3 separate regions of the Homo sapiens genome follow, and all the other regions are linked to region 1. Evidence: fine-mapped expression QTL. A gene starts in region 1. Each other region holds a variant in brackets. All regions are shown on one strand. Distances are from middle to middle.

Evidence for each region.
Region 2: its variant is fine-mapped to the expression of CPAP in fibroblasts (GTEx, PIP above 0.99).
Region 3: its variant is fine-mapped to the expression of CPAP in prefrontal cortex (ROSMAP, PIP 0.95).

What each region holds. Positions count from the first base shown.
Region 1 is chr13:24,919,354-24,927,541 of GRCh38, forward strand. CPAP (centrosome assembly and centriole elongation protein) reads right to left here and starts at 3,508. Exons shown (of 17, transcript NM_018451.5): 1 at 3,408-3,508. RefSeq lists enhancers at 2,652-3,553, 3,554-4,455.
Region 2 is chr13:24,881,508-24,889,695 of GRCh38, forward strand. It overlaps CPAP (centrosome assembly and centriole elongation protein), which reads right to left. Exons shown (of 17, transcript NM_018451.5): 11 at 7,809-7,893; 12 at 4,099-4,163; 13 at 3,769-3,879; 14 at 2,816-2,956; 15 at 2,654-2,738; 16 at 2,456-2,576; 17 at 772-1,862. The coding sequence ends at 1,670. It also overlaps a transcript of RNF17 not described here. Among named protein-coding and RNA genes, the nearest start is that of CPAP, 37 kb to the right of the region's middle. The variant A/G (reference allele first, on the strand shown) is at 4,783.
Region 3 is chr13:24,949,963-24,958,150 of GRCh38, forward strand. It overlaps the pseudogene TPTE2P1. Among named protein-coding and RNA genes, the nearest start is that of CPAP, 31 kb to the left of the region's middle. RefSeq lists an enhancer at 7,095-7,674. The variant G/C (reference allele first, on the strand shown) is at 4,125.

The DNA of each region.
Region 1 (8,188 bases):
TCTAAATTTACAAAGAGATGATATCAATTCAAAGCCTGATACTGAACCTGTGACATGGATATTTTTTAATCTTTTTTTTTTTCCTTGAGACAGGGTCTCACTGTCACCCAGGCTGGAGTGCAGTGGCATGATCACGGCTCAGTGGAGCCTCTACCACCCAGGCCCCAGTGATCCTCCCACCTCAAGCCTCCGGAGTAGCCAGGACCATAGGCATATACCACAACACCCAGCTCATCTTTTAATTTTTTGTAAAGAGTGGTCCCCCTGTGTTGCCCATGCTGGTCTCAAACTCCTGGGCTCAAGCCATTCTCCCACCTTGGCTTCCCAAAGTGCTGGGATTACAGGCGTGAGCCCCTGCGCCCAGTATTTTATGTCTGACAGAAGAATTTTAGCTAGATATGAAAACATTACTTTTTTTCTTTTTTTCTGAGACAGGGTCTCACAATGTCACCCAGGCTGAAGTGCATTGGCACAATCACGGCTCACGGCAGCTTCAACCTCCAGTGCTTAGGTGATCCTCCCATCTCAGCCTCCAGAGTAGCTGGGCCTACAGGTATGTGTCACCATGCCCAGCTTATTTTTTATTTTTTAATTTTTTTGTAGAAACAGGGTGTCCCTATGTTGCCCAGGCTGATCTTGAACTCCTAGGCTCAAGCCATCCTCCTGCTTCGGCCTCCCAAAGTGCTGGTATTACAGGTGTGAGTCACTGCGCCCAGCCTAAAAATCAGTTTCTATCATGACAGATGGTGTCATTCTATAAGGCAAAAAATCTGAATTTAATGGGATTTTACAACAAGAGACTGCTGTTTCCCTCGCTGATTCATTCCCCTGTATAATACACATTGAAAATTCTTGTGTTTGGTTTTCTGAAGCATAATCCACGAATAGTATCATGAATATAGTTGTTACAATTGTTCAGTATGTACAAATGCTATCAACTGCCAGTTTATAGAACTGTTAAAAGACATAGAAGACAGTGAACATAATGATACTGTGTTTTTGCCATCGCTCCCTGGTTGAGTTGTAGAAGAGTTGTATAAAGGCTTACTGTACCATTAATTGCAACTGAAGATTTTCTTGGAACAAGATGATTGCCTGCCAACCATTTAATAACCAAAAACAAAAATGCCAATGTGATGTACATTTTCTCACTGTATCACACTTTGAGAACCACAGCTATTCAGGCATTTAAAAAAACAAAAATTGCTGCCACAGGCAGTAACAAAAATAAATAATGATGTGTGAACATCAGACAAATATGATTCCTTTTTTTTTTTTTTTTTTTGAGATGGAGTCTCACTCTGTTGCCCAGGCTAGAGTGCAGTGGTGTGATCTTGGCTCACTGCAACCTCAGCCTCCCGGGTTCAAGCGATTCACCCACCTCAGCCTCCAGAGTAGCTGGGACTACAAGCATGCACCACCATACCTGGCTTTTTTTTTTTTTTGTATTTTTAGTAGAGACGGGGTTTCACTATGTTAGTCAGGTTGTTCTCAAACTCCTGACCTCAAGTGATCCACCTGGCTTAGCCTCCCAAAATGCTGGGATTACAGGCATGAGCCACCGCACCTGGCCCATGTTTCCATGTATATGAAGCTGAAGAACAGGCAAAATAAACCCATAGTTATAAATGGCATATTGGTCGTTATCCAGGAAAATGGGAGTTGTCCTGTCTGTGTGAAAGTTGATCATACAAATTGAGTCATTCTTATAGCCAACTAAACAATCAAGAAGTCAAGAGGGAAAGGCACTCAGGACACACAACTTTGCTCCAAGAATGGAATTCTCTATAAGTCAGTATGCTGAAACTGCCGGTTGTAACCCGAGACCAATTTGATCTATAGATGCTGAGGTAACTTGCTGCAATTGTAGGACTAATTTTGCCCTCCACCATGGCCCACTCGGTAGGACCTGCTGCCTCCCCAGAACCTTAGGAGAACCAATGAACTTTCTCGAAGAGCGACAGATATAACAATTCTCTTTTTTATAAAACCTCCAGCTTTCTCTTTGTTCTTTGGACATACTGAAGACCACCTGGTCTGTACGCCTGGAACCGCCATTCTTTCTTCCCAAATAAAACGTTAAACTTAAGAGATTCATCTCCAAATTTTTGACTTCAACAACTGGGAAGGTTAATACAGGGGGTGGATACACTTAGGCTGTACACTTAAGATTAGCGCACTTTACTGGATATCTGTTATTCCTGAATAATTTGTAAAAACTTTTTCTAAGCAAATTGTTTTTCAGTAGGAAACCAATCTAAAAAAGTAATGACTTTTTTTTTTTCAAAATCAACCACGTAACTTTGCTTAATTTCAATGACCTTAGCAGAAAATCTTTCGAAATCCAAATTCAGAAGGGAGACAAACTACAAGGTCATTTCATAATATGGAAAACTAGAAAAATTCCCTACTAGACTGACAAGTGCAAGCAGTCTTGGGATGCAGCAGCCAGACTTTTGCATCTCCTCCTCCAACTCCCCACCAAACACACCTTCTATACCTTCAATTTCATGACCGCGATTCTAAAAATATATTTAATGTCAGCATGAAGTATAAAAAAAGCGTCACCAGAACCTGCTACTTATTATTGATACTGAGGTCTTGGTAAAGGGAGCATTGATAATATATATGCCGAGATAGGATTAGTATGTGGACTCAGACTTTACAGATATCAAAATCTGAAGGACACGGGTGCACGTGTATGTCAAACTCATCAAATGGAATGCATTTAAACATGTGCCATTTTTATTGTATAGCAATTATACCTCAATAAAACTTTTAAAAAATGTAACAAACTGACAGCCTTGAAATCTCCAGAAAGTGCTATGTAAACATTCTTTAAAGCAGTATTGAAAAAAAGATAAATTCTCTGCACGGTGAGGGAGGAGAGTGGATACAAACAGCAAATTCAAAGCCACTCTTAGACCGTGAGAAGTAACTAGTTGGTCTGGGAAGTGATTTAGCAGTCCCCTAAAATACAACACGTTCTTGAAAGCCATGAATCCACACGAAGCTTCAAGAGAGAAGCCCTTGACAAAGCTGGGGCAAGACCGGCCCTTAGGACAGCCAGCAACGCTACTTCACCACCCTGCTCCAGCGGACTGCGGCTGCCGCGCTGCCCACAGGAACTCAAGTTCCGCCACAGCCAGGTCAGAGAGACAGACACCCCAGAGAGGCCGGCTTCCCCAGCTCTGCGAAGAACAAAGCAGCGCGAATGAACGAAGCCACTGAACTGCCGTGGGCCTCAGCGCGCCCGTGGGCCTGAGCGCGTCCCGGCGCCCCGCTCCCTCCTCGCCCCGCCGAGCCAACCCCGAGGTCCGAGCAGAGTCCTGCCCGCCCACCGCCGTCCATCTCCGGCGCAGGGCGGCGGACAAAGAGCTCCTCCGCTCTTTTCGCCCACAAATTACCGCTCCGTGAAGCCTGGGCAGCTCAGCAGCACGAACCGACACCTCAATCTCCGCAGCATTTACAAATGGGCCGCCACAATCGCCGCCTCTGTCGGAGCCCCGCCCCCGTCCCGAGGTCCTGTGGGAAGTGAGGATCTCACCCGCGCGTCTGCGCTAAAGCGCAGGCACCGCTGAGCCCAGTGAAACTACAACTCCCAGTGACGCCACAGCGACGGGCGTTGCCCGGCGGGGGATGGACTGCGCGCCGCCTTCCGACCAGCAGCGGGCCAGTGGTCGACGTAGGCGGGCGGCGTGGCGGGGCGGAAAACCGTTTCCGGGAGAGACCTTCCGTGGTGGACGTCGCCCCAGGCTCCCACACTTAGAAAACTAAAGGGAACGCCTAACGGAGCGATGGATCTCCGTGTTCCCAGCAAAGCAGGGAGCACGGAGAGTCAAAGCTAACATAGAGCCCAACCGACGCTTAAAGGAGGTGTTTTGGGTTTTGTTTTTTTTTTTTCTATTTGCGTACGGTCTATTTTGTCGTTTTTTTGGTTTGGTTTGGTTTTTTTCTTTGTTTTCCGCTTTGGCTGAGGTGACTTAGTAAAGGAGAAAAAGGGCAGTCCGCTACACCATTTCGTAAGACGAAAATAACCCTATGAGAATTCACTCCAAAAATAGGCATCTTTCATCTCTCCTCAAATGGCTAATCGGTGGTTTGGCAGAGTGTGTCCATTAGATTCTGAAACTAGTTTGAATACTGACAGTGCAGAATTCAAGAAATTTTTTTGTTTTGTTTCGTTTTAACTGCCACGGCCCTTTAATCTAGGAAGTTACAGCACCGTGAGTTACCACAGTACTACATACCTGGCTTCCATGTCTGATTAAACAGCAGGCCAAGTAAAATGTTTAAAGAAATCAAATGAAGTGCCATTTATAACCGTTATAACTGAAACAAACGACTGCTAAAGACAAAACTATTTCACAGAAATTTGGTCCTCCAAAATTTGTTTTGCTTTCTACTTCAAAAAGAGTCTACTTCTCTAAATCAAGATTTCGGTTTTGCTTCTTTTTTCAATTTTTCTTTTCTTTTTTTAATTTTTATTTTTTGAGATGGAGTCTCGCTCTGTTGCCCAGGCTGGAGTACAATGGCGCGATCTCCGCTCACTGCAAGCTCTGCCTGCCGGGTTCACGCCATTCTCCTGCCTCAGCCTCCCGAGTAGCTGGGATTACAGGCGCCCGCCACCACGCCTGGCTAATTTTTTTATTTTTATTTTTAGTAGAGAAGGGGTTTCACCGTGTTAGCCAGGATGGTCTTGATCTTCTGACCTCGTGATCCGCCCGCCTCGGCCTCCCAAAGTGCTGGAATTACAGGCGTGAGCCACCGCGCCCGGCCCAATTTTTCTTTTTAATTTTCACTGTGGGTGAGGAAGCTAAAGCCCGAGACTTCCGAGATCACACAGCTACTTAAGATGCCAGACAAGGACCCAAACAATCTTCCTTTTCATTTATGATAGCCCTTTGGCTTGAAAGCATGCCCAAAAGTCTCATCATTCTTCCTAAAATGTGTATCTTTAAGGATAGTCGCAATATCCTCTATTTTTGTGCCTATATTTTATTCGTATGTTTTTATTTTAATATAGTATGTAGTGCCACATTGTTTGTTGATTGAATAAATAAATGAATCTTTTACCACACTCAAGTCTTAACTGGCTGTTAAATTAAGGTTATAATGTGTAAGTTTTCACCTGTAGCCCATGTAATTCTCAAAACTGCCCACTAAGCTTCAAGGGTTCAAATCCATTACAAGGTGGAAAGGCTAGTGGGGAGGAACTTCCATCTTCTACTCTGCCAGACAATAAAATGTTCTACCTTATCAGTGGTTCCTATCCTTGTTGCATCTTCAGATGGTGCTGTAGAGAAAAATTAGACTAACGGTTGTGGCACAGGGGTTTTAATGCCAGATTACCCGTTCTGATACAATTCTTTATGCCATCATAGGAGTCAAGAGGGCACTCCTATGTCATGGTTAAGAGTCCAGGATTTATCAGGCAGACCTGGGATCAAATCCTAGCTTGATAACTTACAAACAGCTTTGTAGTCTTCAGCACTCAACTTTTCTGAAACCAGTCTTCTCATCTGCAAAACAGGGGTGGATAATAATGAGACCTTCATAGGACTGTCAAGAAGATTACATTAAAAGAAAGACTATGTATGAAAAAGTAGCAAAAAACCTCCACATAGTAAAAAGTCAATGAACAGGAGGTGTTTTCATCTTTATAAAGAATTTAACTGTTGGTGAACTCTTGTCTACCAAAGCCTAGCTCTGTGGGTCTTGTCAAATGCTGTGCCAGACACAGAATAATACTTATTGTATTCCCAAATTATTTGGAAATAATTCTTTTTCATTATTTATTTTTTTGGAGACAGGGGTCTCACTCTGTTGCCCAGGCTGGTCTCTAACTCGTAGGCTCAAGCAGTCCTCTCACCTTGGCCTCTGAAAGTGCTGGAATTACAGGCATGAGCCACTGTGCTTGGCTGGTAATAATTCTTTTAATCAAAGTTGATCTGAGTGACAAAGAGTTGACAGCTTTTCATTGCTGGTCTGATGGTAGCAAGTGTCCACTCTATCCAGAGAGGACATGTCAGGTGCAGTGGCTCACACCTGTAATCCCAGCACTTTGGGAGACTGAAGCGGATAATTTGAGCCTAGACGTTTGAACGTTAGCCAGGTATGATGGTGTGCACCTGTAGCCCTACATACTTGGGAGGCTGAGGCAGGAGGATCACTTCAGCCCAGGAGTTGAAGGTTATGATCACACCACGAGACTACAGCCAGGGCAACAGAGTGAAACCGCCAACTCTTAAAAAGAAAAAAAGTGGGGGAGGACATCAGGGCTAGCCTGGCCAAGGAATGATTCCTATAGATCAGTCAGAGTGGTGGGAGAAACTATAGGGAAAGGAGCAGACCTTCTGAAAAGTCGGAAGCCTCTGCATAGCCTCCAGGGAGAATAAGCTGAAGGCAGCTGTTTTCTGACCCTGAGGCAGAGGGCAAGGAGTAGGTACCAGGAAGCATAGGGGAATTTATCGTAAATAGGCTTGTTTACTTACATTGACCAGGAGCTGACCTTTGATCATCCACATGCGTGACCCGTTCCCTGAAAGGGGAACAATAATGTTAATTACCCACAGATTGTTTTTGCTCCAGGCTTTCAGCATTATGTCTATACTGAATAAAAGCAAGCAGCTCCAGCTGTTTGCCTGCTCACTCTTTGGCCGCTAGTGCCAAGCAGTCCCCTAGCTGCTCTTACACTGCATATCTGCGTCTGAGTACTCGTTTCATCCATCGTCCAGCCAGGGTCTGTGGGACAGACCCAGCAACTGGTGCCCTGTGTGAGGAATGCTGCAACAGATCACGATGGAACCCCCAAAAATGAGGTGAAGAGACTGTGCGGGAAGTAAGTAATTGGTGCCCACTCAGGATTTCCAAGTTTGAGGGAATTTTCAACCTAGGGTTTCATCATGGGACAACAGTTATCAGCTCAACAGCAACACTATATGTAAGTATTGAAACAGCTGCTTAAAGCTAGCAGAGCCTGGGTCTCGGAGGCTCAGTTAAGGGGCCTAATGCAAACTGTTGTTTTCAATAACCCATGGTTCCCAGAAGAAGGCACGTTAGACCAAGAACTCTGGGAGCAAGTGAGGGGAAATCTTAAATAACATCATGCACAAGGGAAACGGGTCCCAGTAACATCTTTAACGTTATGGGCCTTAATCAGGGCTGCTTTGGCCCCACTCTACACAAAAGAGCCTAAAAAGGAAAGGGAAGAGGAACCATCCACCTACCTGACCGCCTCCTCCTCCCTCAGCCCCACTGTTACTAGGTAAAGGTGCCACAGAGGAGACAGAGTTTCCCTGAGCCCCCTCCTCCAATAAATTGGAAAAAAAGACAAGGGATACACTACAGTTACGGGACCCTGTCTTAGGCAAGTGGCATTAGAAGGGGAGCTCTTGGCCTGCCCTGTGATGCAAGATCAACACGGCAATCAGGTATATGAGCCCATCACTTTCAACACCTATAAAGAGATAAGAAAAAGCATTAGAGAAAACAGAGCTGCTAGCCCATCTACAAAAGGATTAATTGAGGCCATAGCAGACAACTTCCTTATGATCCCATGGGACAGGTCAGTGCTAGCTCAAACAACTTTAGAGGCCAGTCAATACCTCCTCTGGATGGCAGAATATGATGAGTTGTGTGAATGACAAACCAACCAGAATCAATTGGCTGGGTAAAACATATGGGTCACTCAGAAACAGAAAATTGTCGGCACTGGAGAAGTGCACACAGCCAAGCAGAGTGCACGCCCTCTAAAGTCACGATTTGGAGGGAAGAAAAGCAACTATACAACCTCTAATCATGCCCATCCCTGTTCATCTTTGGGAATGGGACCTTATTAGCCCAATGGGGGGGTCACTATGCAGAGCCCTTTCTAATAGTGGCCACTGTTGTAAGTCCTCCCCTACCCCTGACATGGCTGTCTCAAGATCCAATTTGGGTAGAACGGTGACCTTTAAAGGGAGAGAAATTACAACAAACCCATGAATTAATTGAGGAACAATTAAAAGCCAGCCATATAGAACCAGCAGACAGCCCTTGGAATTCACCCATTTTTTGTCATTCCCATAAAGTCTGGTAAATGGAGAGTTCTGCATGACTTACAGGCTATCAATGCTAATTTGCAACCTATGGGGCCCCTTCCACAGGGGCTCCCTTCCCCCCGCAGTGATTCCTCGAGTTTTGAGTC
Region 2 (8,188 bases), 38 kb before region 1:
TCTCTAGAATATATCATCTATGTATCTGTAGATATCTATATATAGGTATATTCTAGAGATATCTCAGGAGAGGTAAGGATATATAGATATATCTATCTAGATTACATAGCTATCTATAATCTAGAGATATATCTAGATAGATATATCTAGATAACCTATATATATCTATCTAGATTATAGATATCTATATAGATTATCTAGGTATACAGATATATCTATCTAGATTATCTAGATCACTTGAGGTCAGGAGTTTGAGACCAGCCTGGCCAACATGGTGAAACCCCGTCTCTATATATCTAGATATCTATCTATATAGATACATCTATATAGATATATAGATACATCTATATAGATATATAGATACATCTATATAGATATATAGATACATCTATATAGATATATAGATACATCTATATAGATATATAGATACATCTATATAGATATATAGATACATCTAGATATATAGATACATCTAGATATATAGATACATCTATATAGATATATAGATACATCTATATAGATATATAGATACATCTATATAGATATATAGATACATCTATATAGATATATAGATACATCTATATATATAGATACATCTATATAGATATATAGATACATCTATATAGATAGATACATCTATATAGATAGATACATCTATATAGATAGATACATCTATATAGATATATAGATACATCTATATAGATAGATATAGATACATCTATATAGATAGATATATAGATACATCTATATATAGATACATCTGTACTTATATTCTTCAAAAAGTTTTATTTTTCATATTCAGTTAAGTCACCTGGAATTGATAGATTTCATTAACAAAACCTGATTCATAGTATATGTGACAGGTAAGGTCTATCTAGACCAATCTGTAATTATTTATTATATAAATTTACAAGTAAGTAAGTAAGTGACTTGCCCATCCTTCAGGGACATCTTGCTTCCATGAGGCTACAGTAATCTCACTGTGGTAACATCAGGGTAGCTGTGGTCCATGGGTTAACACTGGCTAGTCATCGTTCATGCCCCCCTCCACTCTCAAGTATCCCATTTTGAGACATTACATTACAAAGTCAGCCTTGTTATAACTGCTTTCTCTTCACCATGATTACTACCTGTTGTGTGTGACCTATTTATATTCATCCACTGTTGTAACTTCCCATTCTGTTATAATAATTAATGATCCTCTGTAGAAGATCAAATGGTCTAATTTTGGTACTAACTGAACATAGTAATATTTTGGCTACAGAGACACGTGTTTACTCCTTGAGTACACCTTCTGTACAAGTCCAGTGCTCTACGGCTGATGTGTCTGTGGGACATCTAGGTGATGTACTTCCTGTACTTCTTGGTTTTTTTTTATAGCCATTTCTAACCAATAAACACACCCACTTACTGTAAAAACCTGTACACAATTTCTAAACAGTCAAAATGCTTTCCTTAGTCTATTGAAAGACAGGGTAGTGAATTATAAATGAGAGCTATCATTGCATTTCAAAGAATATAAAAATGAAGATGCCACAGGGTAAACTTTTATTTTAGAATCTAATCTTTTCCCCACACATACACAATAAATTAAACAGAATCCACAGTAAATGTACATTTTTTAACATAAAAAGTCAGTTACTGTTACTTCATGATCACATGAGGATCGTCACAGCTCCGTGTCCATTAGCACATTACCCTCCTTGTCCTTAACTCTTATCCGACCGGATCTGTACTTCGTTTCTTGATGACCGTTTGCATATACGGTTTTAACAGTGCCATCTGGGTATTCCCGTCTCTTGAACTGGGCAGTATGTAGTTCTCTTTGGCCATTATTAAACTCTATGAGTTTGTTGCCATCACTGTAAAATTTAAAAAAAATATGATTTCTTAAAAAAAAAATAATAGAAAATAAACAACAGAAAAACTACTGAAAAGTAGCCTTTTGAGTCTGGCAGCTACTTCTGGAGACATCCCTTGGTTATCCCTATACAATTGTAACTTTCTACAGTGTTTCTGCTTCATGGTGATAGTTCCAATTATCAGATTAGCATTGTTTTAATCATTCATATTTTCATCACAAAATGCTTAGTAACTTTTTTCAACTTGTGTTCTTCCTTTTGGTTGTTATATTAAAAGGGACCCTTCTTTCACTAATTTAAAAACCATCTGAGTGTTTGTTTGCTCTGTATCAGGTGGGGAAGAGAGTTAGTTATTCCTGGGAAGGGGCATGATCAGACTTAAAAATCTGTTTTGAAAGAATGGAACAAAAAAGGAGAATGTGAAAAATAATTCACATCAAGTTGACTGACATGCCTGTGGGACATTCATTCAAACTGAACCCCCTAATATGGGTGTCACATATCATCAGAAACGCAAGGCTGGGGCACCTTCTGAGCACAGATGAACAGGTGTCACACTGAGTGGTTTTTCTGTGAACATAATGTTGCCATACCGTTGTACTCTGACAATTGTACCATCTGGGAAAATGCTTTCTTCTTGTCCATCAGGAAATAAGTTTTTAACAGTCTGGTCAGGAAACGTGATTTCTTTTCTTCCATCTGGGTAATGTTTTTCTGTTTAAAAAGTTGTTACAGTAAATATTTTTTGAAGGAAGGGAAGAATTTAATGAGAGGGTGGAGCAAGTTTGTACCTATTTGTCCACTTGAGAAATGTAAGACTTCCAGTCCCTCCGGGTATGTCGTGTGAGTGGTCTGGGCAGCTGCATAGTAGTAGATCTGTAAAGACACACAGTCAGTCTGCCTTTTCTCCAGAGATGGTTAAACTATGGAGGAGAACACCTCTGGAAACATACCACTCTTTGGTCTGGCATGACCTGCTTCACGTCACCATTAAAGAAAGTGACAGTGATGGTCTTCCCATCTGCACTCACTTCCTTTCGAGTTCCATTGGGAAACAGTATAACACGGCACCCATTCTTATAAACCTTTTCCACCTAAAAAACCAACACAAGATTATCACCTAAGATTTTCTCCTGACGAAAGTATGGCTAATTCTCCTCCCAACTGCCTACTTTGAAATTTTTTGTAATAAAATGTAAAACATTCCCTCAAAAGATCCTTTATTTCGTGAGGAGTAGCAAACTCGTGATTTTCTAATTTTCTCATTCCTTTTCCATGTATTAGCTGGAATTTACCTAAAAAAGAAAACCTTCCCTTATCAACAATTTGTTACCCTAAAGTAGACTTTGTACAGGAAAGTCTAACTACTGCTTTGCCTGTTGTTCTTTGTCCTTCTCTCATTCCTCAAGGATAGCACTCCAACCCTATAATTTCAATAGAAATGGACCAGATTAGGTATTCGAAAAGTAAATTTTCCATAAACCTGAGGAAAAAATTCCCTCATCACCTCTAACCTGTATATATCCCTTTCTTCCTCATTCCCTTTAGCTGGAACCCCCAGGCAGTTTTCCCACTAAGAAACTTTCCTAAGCATAAGAATAAAACTGTGCTAGCTGGAGATGAGGAGAGAGGTCCCTGACTCAGGATCAGTATAAGAAAGGCTGCAAGAAAGGAAGACCTAGAATGAACAGAAGCTTTTAAGAAGTGCCAAGGATTACAAAGGCTTTGGAGTAAGAACAAAGATCATACAGAGATTGTATGCCGCCTTTTGCTGAATCTCTGAACGAGAAATGGCAACTAAAGGCATCTTGTCCAAAGAGCCCTTATTTTAGATTCTATGTGTTTCAACTATTTTAACCCATGTTTATTTTTTATAGAATTCATTATTTCAAAAACATTTTTTAACCTTTCCATCAGGATGACTGATTTCTCCCTGTATGTCTTGGTCTTCCTCCTCCTCTTTATATTCAGGATCTGGGAAGTTCAGTGGTTCAAGTGGCTCCCTGGGAGAGGCAGCCTGTAAGCACAACACATTTCAAGCAGCTAAAACCTACTCTTACTTCCAAAGCCAGATTCTGATATAGGGTTCTAGGACTAGTGTTTACAAAATATAACATTTATAATGTTAAGTAAAAACTCTTTTTTACACGTGGTTTAGAAACGTTAAGTCTATTAACAAATTGATTTCAAGCCTAAGTAATGTATGTTTGAAGAATATATAAAAACAGAGATTTACTTGTCCCTTATCCAAATTGCCTAAATCACGAGGAGGTGCAGACTTGGATCTTCGAGGTGGATTGCCTATTAGAATAAAATTGTCAAGAGTTAGATTTAATATTTAATTGAAAATTTTATTAGTATGATCACACATTTCCTTAGTTCATATCCTGTGAACTGCTGTCCTTTATCCATTAGTTAAGGATGTCTTAATATTTTTCTTTACTAATTTGTAGTTCTCCGACACAGGTACTTAAGTCCTAGATGTCCAAGAAAGACAGTATCTTGTCTCAGAGTTTACAATCCTGGGGAAGAGACAGGTGATGAAACAGCCTGACAGACCCAAATGTATTTCAGAGACAATCACAAGGTGTAAGGTGCAGATAAAAGAGGCATCTAAGACCTGTGGAATTTGGCTTCACCAAATAACTGGGTATTTAGTTAAAACATAAATGCCCTTGTGGCTATGGTATAAACTTTTTGTAATATGTCCAGCACACCAATCACATACTGTACCAGCAACATATACATTACAAAATAAACACGCCCCCACCAACAACAAAGTGAGGTGAATCTCTCTCTAAAAATACACTGAAGTGCCAGTATTTTCATCCTATGTGCCAATGGATCATATTGTAAACACTCAACTTGGAAGGGTCTCGAGCAAGTGCCAGAATCTGACCTCCATGTTAAAAAGTGTAAC[A/G]GAGCTGGATGTTACGGGAGAATGGCCTGAAGGAGGAGAGCGGAGGCAGGTGGTCAGCCAACAAGCTGCTGGGCGTGTGAGGCGGCTGTGCTGTGCCTGTGAGACAGGAATGGTTCCATTACACCATGGGAAATCACTGATTTATAGGTCCCAAACTGCCACACATCAGCAATTTCATATGATTCAATGTAACTAATAGATCCAGAAAATAACATCAGAGGGATCAGTCTAGGGACTACTGGGAGTGGATGGTGAAGGATAACAGAAAAAGTACTGGGAGTACACAGGGGTTTAGGCTTGAGCAAAGGGGCAGATGGCAGACAAGGCTCTGGGGATAGCAGGAGTGCTCTGTTTGGGATGACACAAGAATGTCATGCTTCACCCCCACAGGTTATGTGTGCAAACTAAACTATAACTAAAGCTGTGTGACATCATTTCTCATAACCACCTTTAGAGAAAAGACTAGAATATTATTCCCATTTTATGGCAAGAAAACCAAGGCTAAGTGGTTAAATAACCTACTAAGGTTGTCAACTAATAAAAGGCAGAACCAGGATTCAAACCCACTATATATCAAGTTTAATTCTTCCCAGGCTGATTATGAACTAACATTAACTTGAACCCCCAAAGTATCTACCAACTGGGCAGGATAACGAGAGGTGACCGTGGGCATAGACAGGCTCCAGGTGCAAGCACACTGTCTAGAGGACTGTGTGAACCCACCTTAAAAATACCTACAACAGGAAAACTGGGGACAGTGGAAGCTAGGGAATACACAGTGCTGGAATAGCTGGGTAGATACTAGGGGAGGGATGTTTATGACCCCAAGATAGGGAAAGAATTAAGAAGCACTGCCCAAAGGGAAAAACTGAAATTGAACTACTTTAAGAATTTAGGTTCATCAAAAGATACTATAAAGAGCAAAAAGACAAGCCATGAACTAGGAGAAGATACTGATTTGCAATTTATGTAGATTATAAGTATACCACTTATACCAGGGGGCCCCAAACCCCACGGTATACTGGTCTGTGGCCTGTAGGAACTGGGCCACACAGCAGGAGATGAGCAGCGGGTGGGCGAGCCAGCGAAGCTTCATCTGTATTTACAGCAGCTCCCCATCACTCGCATTACCACCTGAGCTCCACCTCCTGTCAGATCAGCAGTGGCATTAGATTCTCATAGGAGCAAGAACCCTATTGTGAACTGCATATGCGAGGGATCCAGGTTGCACGCTCCTTAGAGTATCTAATGCCTGATGATCTGTCACTGTCTCCCATCACCCCCAGATGGGACCATCTAATTGCAGGAAAACAAGCTCAGGGCTCCCCCTGATTCTACATTATGGTGAGTTGTATAATTATTTCATTATACATTACAATGTAATAATATTAGAATTAAAGTGCACAATAAATTTAATGTGGTGCTGAATCATCCCAAAGCCATGCCCCTTACCCCAGTCCATGGAAAAATTGTCTTCCACAAAATTGGTCCCTGATGCCAAAAAGGTTGGGGACTGCTAAGGTATACTACCAAAGTGAGCACATGCTGTTGGAAAAATGGCACCAACAGACTTGCTCAGTGCAGAGTTGCTGCAAGTCTTCTGTCTCCAAAAACCACAGTTTGTGTGAGGCGCAGTAAAGCAGAGCATGAGAAAATGAGAGTGCCATCAAGAAAAGCCACGGGCTCCACAGAGGGCAGTTCCGGGCTGCCACTCATCTATGTCTTTACGTAGGTGGTGGTAACCCGAGTATTTGCTTTCTAATTGTCAAACTGCATATATCTTTACTAAATTTATTTCACAAAAATAATTTTTTAAAATTCCAGATTAAAAACTCAAGATGTGAATGCAAAAGCGCATAGAAGAAAATGGTGTACTTGTGGCCTGAGGATTGAGAAGAATTAAAGTCATGAAAACCAAAAACTATTTTAAAAGACTAGTAAATTCAACATTACAAGGAAAAACATACATTAAAAAAAACACAAACTGAAAAGCCAAACCCAGATTGGGAGAAAATATTAGCAGTGCTTGTAACTGACAAAGGATTACTATGCGGAATATTTTATAAGGAGAAACACACACACACACATCCAAAATTTTAAATGGACAAAGGAAATGAACAGGCAGTTCACAAAAGGGGAACCTCAAATGCTGACTAAATGTAAGAAAACATGCTCACAGGGCCTTACCAGCTCACGGAATCAACCACCATTTTACATCAACTGGCCAAAATGTTAAAGTCTGGCCAGATCAAGTGTTTGCAAGTATGAAGAGCATACTCTGCTGACAGTAAAAAAAACTGGTACAACCATGTTGCAGAGCAAAGGGAAAACCTCCAGCTGACATGGCCTGGCATCTTACTCTTCATATATATCCTAGAGAAGCCACAGGATCAAGACACGCTCTGCAGCCCTATTCATTATCATGCAAACCTAATTGCCCATCACCAGGAATGCTGAACTGTGGAAGTATACAATGCAATCTACATAGCTATTAAAATCAATCAACTGGAGGTTTTATGTGTTAAGATTGGTAAGTCATACAGTATTGAAAGAAAAAAATTGCAGAAGGACACACAGAATATGAAACAATACTACAGGGTGAGTGTCCCTTATCAGAAATGCTTGGGAGCAGTATTGCAGATCTCCATTTTTTTTTCAAGTTTTGGAATATTTGCAAATACTTATTGGTTGAGCATCCTTAATCCACATTCAAAATGCTCCAATGAATGTTTCCTTTGAGCATCATGCTTGCCCTCAAAAAGTTTCAGATTTGGGATGCTCGACCAGTATAACAATTTATGAACGCAACAAGGTAAAATAATTTAAAACCGAAGCATGGACCATTATCAGGGTAGAAATTAACTGGCGGAATAAGATGATGCACAGGAGCTTCAATTACATTTATTAATTCAAATTCATTCAAATGTTCAAAAACATTTATTAAGAAATGTTTTATTAAGTTGGGTATAAATTGTTTATTCCTTACATTCTGAAATGTTTTATAAAAAGATCATGCAGCCTCTTACCTTGCATTGGAAGATAATTTTTCTTGTATTTTTCTACCTGGGTTCCTGAAGAAATCTGACTGTTTTGAAATCGAACAGATGTGTTCTATAGTATAAGAGATAATTTTTTATTTAAAATGAGTGTTAGTCTATTAATACACTAAGTGAAACTAATAAAACTCAGCTAGTGCTAAGAATGCTGTGGGTTTTGTTTATTCATATTGTTTTCATTTATACAACAGGCCAAAGCAAACAAGCTGTTATCTAGGAATCACTGCGCGTGTGCACACACACGCACGCGCGCCCCTTTTGACAAACATTCATTCAAGTTAGGACACAGTAGGCAAGGTTACCTGAACCATCTCCTCTGACCATTACAGAGCAGAGGAGGAGCACACAGG
Region 3 (8,188 bases), 31 kb after region 1:
GTGTTTTAGCAGTGACACTTGTCTTATTAGTTGCTACCTTTCGTTTCCTGATGAACTCATCTTGGTCTAGATTGTTGAGGGCCTTGACAATAAAAGGAAAATCATTCAAATAAGAATAATTTCAATAAGGCCAAGATAGAATGTTTTCAAGGACAATCATGGCCTGAAGATACAGTGGCAATAAAGGTATTTTGAATAAAGTAACACCCACGGACTGGGCGTGGTGGCTCATGCCTTAATACCAGCACTTTGGGAGACTGAGGCAGGCAGATTGCTTGAGTTCAGGAATTTGAGCTCAGCCTGGGCAACAACGGCAAAACCTTGTCTCTACTAAAAATACAAAAAATTAGCCGGGTGTGCTGGCATGCGCCTATAGTCCCAGCTACTCGGGAGGCTGAGGTGGGAGAATCAACTGAGCCTGGGAGGTTGAGGCTGCAGTGAACCAAGATCACACCACTGCACTCCAGTCTTGACAACCAGAGTGAGATGCTGTCTCAAGAAATAAAAAATACAAATAAAAAATTTGTTAAAAAAAAAGTAGCACCCAGCACCAAAGAGGAAATAATGATTTCCTGTAGACATAAGGCTAACCAGTGTTTATAATGAAAAGATAACCTCCCTTCAGAGTCCTCCCAAGCTTAGGTGAATTGTGAGCAGGAGTAGTGAATTTCAAAATAATACACCTAGATTACTCTAAGAACAAATATTTCTTTTGACTTCACTTACAATTTTAAACAAAAGCAGAAGTTACCAAAGATTACTTATCTTCATATTTACCACAATCTTCTTACCCCAACCCCCATGTCTGTGTGTGATTAAAGGAAGCTTGTCAAGTAAGCTACCTAGTTAGTGCTCAGAATGAGAGACTGTGTGTTGGGAGTTGGGGGACTGCTTGTGTGAAACACTTCTCTCTTCTGGATTTAAAACTTAGTCTTTGTTGCCAGTCTGTTAACAGACAGTTTGTAAATGAAGTGGAAGAAAAAATATAAATTAGCTTTCTAATAAATCTGAAATTACAAATGTGAACCAAAGCAGGGAATAAATACTTGACCAAAAATATGTAAGTAAGTGGGGGTTGGGGAATTACAATTTTTAAATATCTCAAGTTTTTGCTATGAAAGTTCTATTTCAAAGTTCTTCAAAATGATGTCTGATGTTCCTGCATACTGTGTTCCAAATTTATGTAAATACAAGATGGAAATTGTGAAGTATGTGCCTTCAAAAAAGAAAAAAAAAACACTGACATTTTATCTATATATATTTAGTAGACTTATGAAGAACATATATAAACATATATAAATATATCATCAAGGAAGATTTAGGATATATGAATATGTGGCAAGGTTGGAAAGAACATAATTCTTTCCCAGAAGGGGAAGGGGGAGCTGTACTTAATCGGATCCAGCTACAACATCACTGGAAGTCATTTCTTACCAAAAAGTATCTCCACGGCAAATTCTGGTGGATAAATTTTCCAAGCTTTTTGTTTATGTGGATTATCCAATTCATTTCTTGGTAGATAAAGCCTAAGAATAGAAAAAAAATTATTACATTTTATATTGGGGCTCACCGAAAAGCCACGCAGTTGGGTACCCACGTTAGAGCTGGAAGAAACAAAAAAAAGAAACTCACCATGAATAGAACCCCAGCTCCTTTTTTGTGTCTCGGTTGGCTCCTTCCACCTTTTTGGTGAGACTTAAAAATACTTTAATCTTCAGCAACACATCAGTAACACATGCTGACTCTCTTAGCATTGCTTTATATGGCATTAATGACTTCCAAGTTTAATAAAATATCTAAATTTCTCTCTGTGACAGAAATCAGTCAGGATAGACATGAATGAAAACCCAGGAATAAAATACTATATCTCTTTCAATTTATGTGTGAAGTTGCAATTTTTTGAATTTTTACAATCAGACCTTGGAAATGACCTTGAGCAGTAGGACATAACTCCCACATGCTGAGCGTTCCAATAATGGAACACTAGGCATAAATTGGTTAACCCATTTATGCCTAGTGTTCTAAATGATACAAGTTAGCATTTTTGGCTAAACAACAATCTTATAACTAACAAAAACAGCTTTACCAAGTTGTATGTAAATGTAAATGTTACAGAAATCTTTAGAAATTTATATAAAAGTAAGAATAAAAGTGATCTAGCTTATCACTTCTCCAAAATGAACATAGTGTTTTAAAGGAAAAAGACTGTATCCTTTAGCAAGAACCACTTTCGAGGAGCAGCATCAAGTGAAGTTACATCCAGGTCTCACTTTTTGAGGGACTTTGCTCATGTTAGAAGAAAAAGCTTATTGTTTGTATGCATCCAAAAAAAAAAAAACTTGTAAAAATTTCCGTCAAATCCAAAGTTCACTCTATCAAAATCCATTAAATGTTTTGCATTGCAAGTGTGTAGACCAGAGGTTTAATTTCCTGTTGCCTTGCTGGACTTAAGGAGTTATTCGATCCAGTTCACATTTGAAGAAAAGATTAGGACTGGATGTAACAATAACTATCAATTCATGCCACATATAATCATAGCCACTTCTTCAATTCTGACCTAAATCATTTAAAAAATATTTTGTCCTTTTGTATTGAAGAGTATGGTTGATACCAAAAAAAAATCCCAATTTTTCACCATCACAAAACAAATGCTACTTATAGTGGAGAACTTCTAGACTGAGAAATGAGTTTCCAAATATGGTAGAAGGTTTTTTTGGAACAATAATCTCCAAACCCAATTAATAATTTTTCAGAAAGGTTTCCCAATTCAGTTATTAGAAAGCCACATTTGAATGGCTATTTAAATAGACTATTACTTAATGATATTTTTTAGCTGTATTCCTTAATACTGTGTCTTGTAACTTCTCCTAGATATAAGTGTGTCAGTCAGCTTTTCATCTAGCTGAAGCCTCCCTAGGTCCTGCCTTACTTTAGCACAAAATTTGGTGGTGGTTCGTCATTGGTAAATCAGCACCTACTGACAGGGACCTGACATACTGAAGGTGCTGAGCAGACTCATATTGAACTTCTCCAAGAGGAATTTACTACCACACTTAAGATCTGATTGTAATACTTTTGAACTCATAACACAGTTCTATGGCATGGACCTTGAGGATACTGCAACAGTGGGTCTCAAGAACAAAGGTATTTTTAAAATAACCAGAGTAAGAGGAGTAAGGCAATGAACAATGGTGGCTCAAGGATTTTTTGCTTTCTATAAATTAAGTTTATGACAACCAGCAAAAGACTTGCCATTATGCCTTGTATATAGACATTGAAGATTAGGCTGTTTCTATGGGTTTATATTATATTCATACCTGTTATTTTGAATAAAAGATGTGTTGAACCAGAAGAAAAATGAACAATTGTCACAGTACTTAGGAAGGTTCTAAAAAAAATTTCAAAGTAAAACTGATACCAAGAACTAATCATTCCAAAGAAATTAAAGTTCCTTCCTTTATTCCTTTTTATATTTATCAAACAATTATAACCATTAAATATGTAGCACTCTGCAATCTATAACAATACACTCAAGACACAAAGGAGGAAGCTTTAAGAAAATGCTATTGCATTCTCTTACTGTTTCTATCAAAATTTTCAAGGAATAGTATTTTTTCCATGATAGGTATTTAATTTAAATGCTGCTATTTGAATCTGGTTTAGATAGTGCCAAACAGACTCTACTAAGGACCTATGCCTATATATACCCAACTAGATTGTAGTGAATTCTTATAATTTTTTTGTTGCCTCAGCATCCCTTTTAAATATAAACTGGACTTTCTGATGTCAGGACTTTTCTGATATCAGAAGCGGGGTTCAGTCACCCTCAGCAGTTTCCAGTTCACCTCCTCCCAGTTTCTCCATGTGACTGATCCTGATATCTGCCTTATACAATCTTCTCCTGGTGACCCCTTCATTATGGGACAGCTAGATATAACCTACTTGACTCACCCAACAGACCCCCATACTCTGCAGGGACCACGTGGATATATTAGTGACCACCTCTCAGCCACAGCAGAGACTCATGGCTGCTTGCGTTAAACCAAATTAGACCTCCCTGCAGGAAACCTACTCAGGTCGCACCTTACATCCCAATAAAGGCTTCCACTCTCAGGTCCCTCCCT[G/C]TCTCTCGCTATTGCTCCCACCCATCAGTCAAGCACAGGTCTCCTGGATGGCTCCCTCTTCCAGTTGCCCCTGCGAAGTGTGCTGCCCTCTTCTCTCTGGAATTAATAAAAAACTGCTTTGGTTATTTCTTGTGTTGTATTGTGCTGCCTTCTCTGTGTTTCACCCAACTGAGTCGCCCAAACCTAACTCTCTTTCCAGTCAGTGCTCCCAGCTACTAAGGAGGCTGAGGTGGGAGGATTGCTTGAGCCCAGGAGGTTGAAGCTACAGTTAGCTATGATCATGCCACTGCACTCCAGCCTGGGTGACAGAGTGAGACCCTGTCTCAACTTCTTAATTTTTTAAAAAAGATGCAAAACAAAATGTAATCATTGCTATGCAGTAAAACGTACCTTTGGGTTTTTTTTTTTTTAGCATCTTGGCTTTTACTTTTTTTGTGTTTATTTTGTATTTTTTGTATTTGAGAATACATGTAAATTTAGAAAAATTTAGAAAATTTACAATTTAGAAAAAAACAAATGAACAAAAATTATTCAAATTACATATTTTCTTTCAAAAAATTTGTTATAGATCTAATTTATTGTTTTCTTCCCCCTCCCCCTCCCTTGTTTGGAATTGTAGTAAAGCAAATCTTAAATAAAATCATTAGACCAGACAAGAACAATGGCAGAGGCTATTTTGTGATTACTCACTGAAGAGAAAAATTGCACTTTCACATCATCATACAGAGGTGGACTGTCATATACATTAGTTAATACACCGGCTGTTTCAATGTCATGCAGTATCTGTGAATGAACACATGGAATTGAGAACTACAAACCTAGATAACGATAACAAAAGGTCCTTTTCACTTATCATGACTTCCTATATTTATCAAGTACTTTTGGTCTCACAGCCCAATCACTACATGCATAAATAATTATTAATAATCTTTTCTAGTTGCAATACTATTGTGTGTGTGTGTGTGTGTGTGTTTTCGTTTGTTTTTTGTTTTTTGAGACAGAGTCTCACTGTCACCCAGGCTGGAGTGCAGTGGCGTGATCTCGGCTCACGGCAACCTCTGTCTCCCAGGTTCAAGTGATTCTTGTGCCTCAGCCTCCCGAGTAGCTGGGACTATAGGCACATGCCATCATACCCAGCTAATTTTTGAATTTTTAGTAGAGATGGGGTTTCACTATATTAGCCAGGCTGGTCTCAAACTCCTGGCTTCAAGTGATCTGCCTGCCTGGGCCTCCCAAAGTGCTGGATTACAGGCATGAGCCACTGCACCCGGCCTGTTGTTTATGTCTTTTAAAGGCCAACATGTTTGAGTGTTATCATGAACCACTTTTCTTTTTTTTTTTTTTTTTTTGAGACAGAGTCTCACTCTGTCACCAGGCTGGAGTGCAGTGGCATGATCTCGGCTCACTACAACTTCCGCCTCCTGGGTTCAATTGATTCTCCAGCCTCCGCCTCCCAAGTAGCTGGGACTACAGGCATGTGCCACCACACCCAACTAATTTTTGTATTTTTAGTAGAGACAGGGTTTCACCATGTTGGCCAGGATGGTCTCGATCTCTTGACCTCGTGATCCACCTGCCTCGGCCTCCCAAAGTGCTGGGATTACAGGCATGAGCCACTGTGCCTGGTCATGAGGCACTTTTCAAAAGTATTGAATTTTCTATTAGACTTTAATCAATTAAATATTATCATTTAATGTGTGTCATTTGATTTTCATGTGTTAGGGCCTTTTTTGAGAATATATTAAGAAGCTCAATTTTAAAGCTAGCATTGACATTCAAAAAGCAATGCGTAACTCATCATGGTTTTTTATTTTCTAAATTTAAAAATAACAACGGGGGTCTGTAACACTTGGGGGTTGGGCCTGCATGCCCCTCCCAAGGGAGAGGGAGGGTGGGGTCCCCCTGCTCATCATGTTTTATCAGAACTCTTGTGTTTGTCAATGGGATCTTTGAACTTGACCAATGCAGGCTGCTGGATGGAGTGACCAAAGATAGCTCAAGATACTATTTCTTTGACTCACTCTCATATAAATAAAGGCACCCACAGTAAGAAAGGTCTATGCTAGGCCCTGTGGAAAACACAAAAGGAGGTGCAGACTCAGTTGGCCCCTTTTGGGAGCTGTACACATAAGAAACAATAGTAGAATGGTACATAACTTAATCTGTATGATAAAGACTGGGTGTGCTGTTATGCACTATTAGGGGCTAGTTAACAGAAGGTACAGAATGCAAAAATTTCATTAAGGAGGTAGAAATTGAATTGGGCATGAAGCAGTTTAGATAAACGAAGAAGAGCTCTGAAAATAGACTCTAGTCCAAACGGAGGGAAAAAGACCAGCAATAATGCAAAGTAGAAATTAGAAAAATGGGCCAGGAATGGTGGCTCATGCCTGTAATCCTAGCACTTTGTGAGGCTGAGGTGGGCAGATCACCTGAGGTCGGGAGTTTGAGACCAGCCTTGAAGGGGTGGCCTGCCCCTCCACACCTGTGGGTGTTTCTCCTTGGGTGGGATGAGAGACTGAGAAAAGAAAGAGACATAGAGACAAAGTATAGAGAAAGAAAAGTGGGCCCAGGGGACCAGCGCTCAGCAAAGGGAGGACTCACGCTGGCACCAGTTTCTGAGTTCCCTCAGTATTTATTGATCATTATCTCTACCATCTCAGAGAGGGGGATGTGGCAGGACAATAGGGTAATAGTGGGGAGAGGGTCAGCAGGAAAACATGTGAACAAATGTCTCTGTATCATAAACAAGGTTAAGAAAAAGGTGTTGTGCTTTGATGTGCACATACACAAACATCTTGGTGCATTAAAGAGCAGTATTGCCACCAGCATGTCTCACCTCCAGCCCTAAGGCAGTTTTCTCCTATCTCAGTAGATGGAATATACGATCGGGTTTTACACTGAGACATTCCATTGCCCAGGGAGGAGCAGGAGACAGATGCCTTCCTCTTATCTCAACTGCAAAGAGGCCTTCCTCTTTCACTAATCCTCCTCAGCACAGACCATTTATGGGTGTCGGGCTGCAGGACGATCAGATCTTTCCCTTCCCAGGAAGCCATATTTCAGACTATCACCTGGGGAGAAACCTTGGACAATACCTGGCTTTCCTAGGCAGAGGTTCCTGCAGCCTTCCTCAGTGTTTTGTGTCCCTGGGTACTTGAGATTAGGGAGTGGTGATGACTTTTAACAAGTATGCTGCCTTCAAGCATTTGTTTAACAAAGCACATCCTGCATAGCCCTAAATCCATTAAACCTTGAGTCAACACAGCACATGTTTCTGCCAGCACAGCATCTCAAGGCAGAAGAATTTTTCTTAGTACAGAACAAAATGGAGTCTCTTATGTCTACTTCTTTCTATGTAGAAACAGTAACAGTCTGATCTCTCTTTCTTTTGCCCACAAGCCTGACCAACACGGAGAAACCCCATCTCCACTAAAAATACAAAATTAGCCAGGCGTGGTAGTGTATGCCTGTAATCCCAGCTACTTGGGAGGCTGAGGCAGGAGAATCGCTTGCACCCAGGAGGCAGAGGTTGTGGTGAGCCGAGATTGTGCCAATGCACTCCAGCCTGGGCAACAAGAGCAAAACTCTGTCTCAAAAAACAAAAAGAAAAGAAAAAAAATTGGAAAAACAACAACAAACAATATCAGGCAGTGTGGCTCATGTTTATAATCCCAGCACATTGCGAGGCTGAGGTGGACAGGTTGCTTGAGCCCAGGAGTCTGAGACCAGCCTGGGCAACATAGCAAGTCCCAGCCTCTTCAAAACATAAAAAAAAATTGGGGGATTGCTTGAGCTCAAGAGGTTGAGGCTACAGTGAGCCATGATCATGCCACTGCGCTACAGCCTGGGTGACAGAATAAGACCCTGGCTCAAGAAAAAAAAAAAAAAAGTAAAGGAAGAAAGGAAGGAAAGAAAGAAATAAGTTATTTGGTTAGTTATAACCAAATAACTAAATTAGAGTTGTGTTCCAAGAGCCAAAAGGGATGACCCAGTTTATTTGGAATGAAGTCTGCTGGTCAAGCTACTGATGGAAAAAAGCTCAGGTATTACATTAGGGCTAT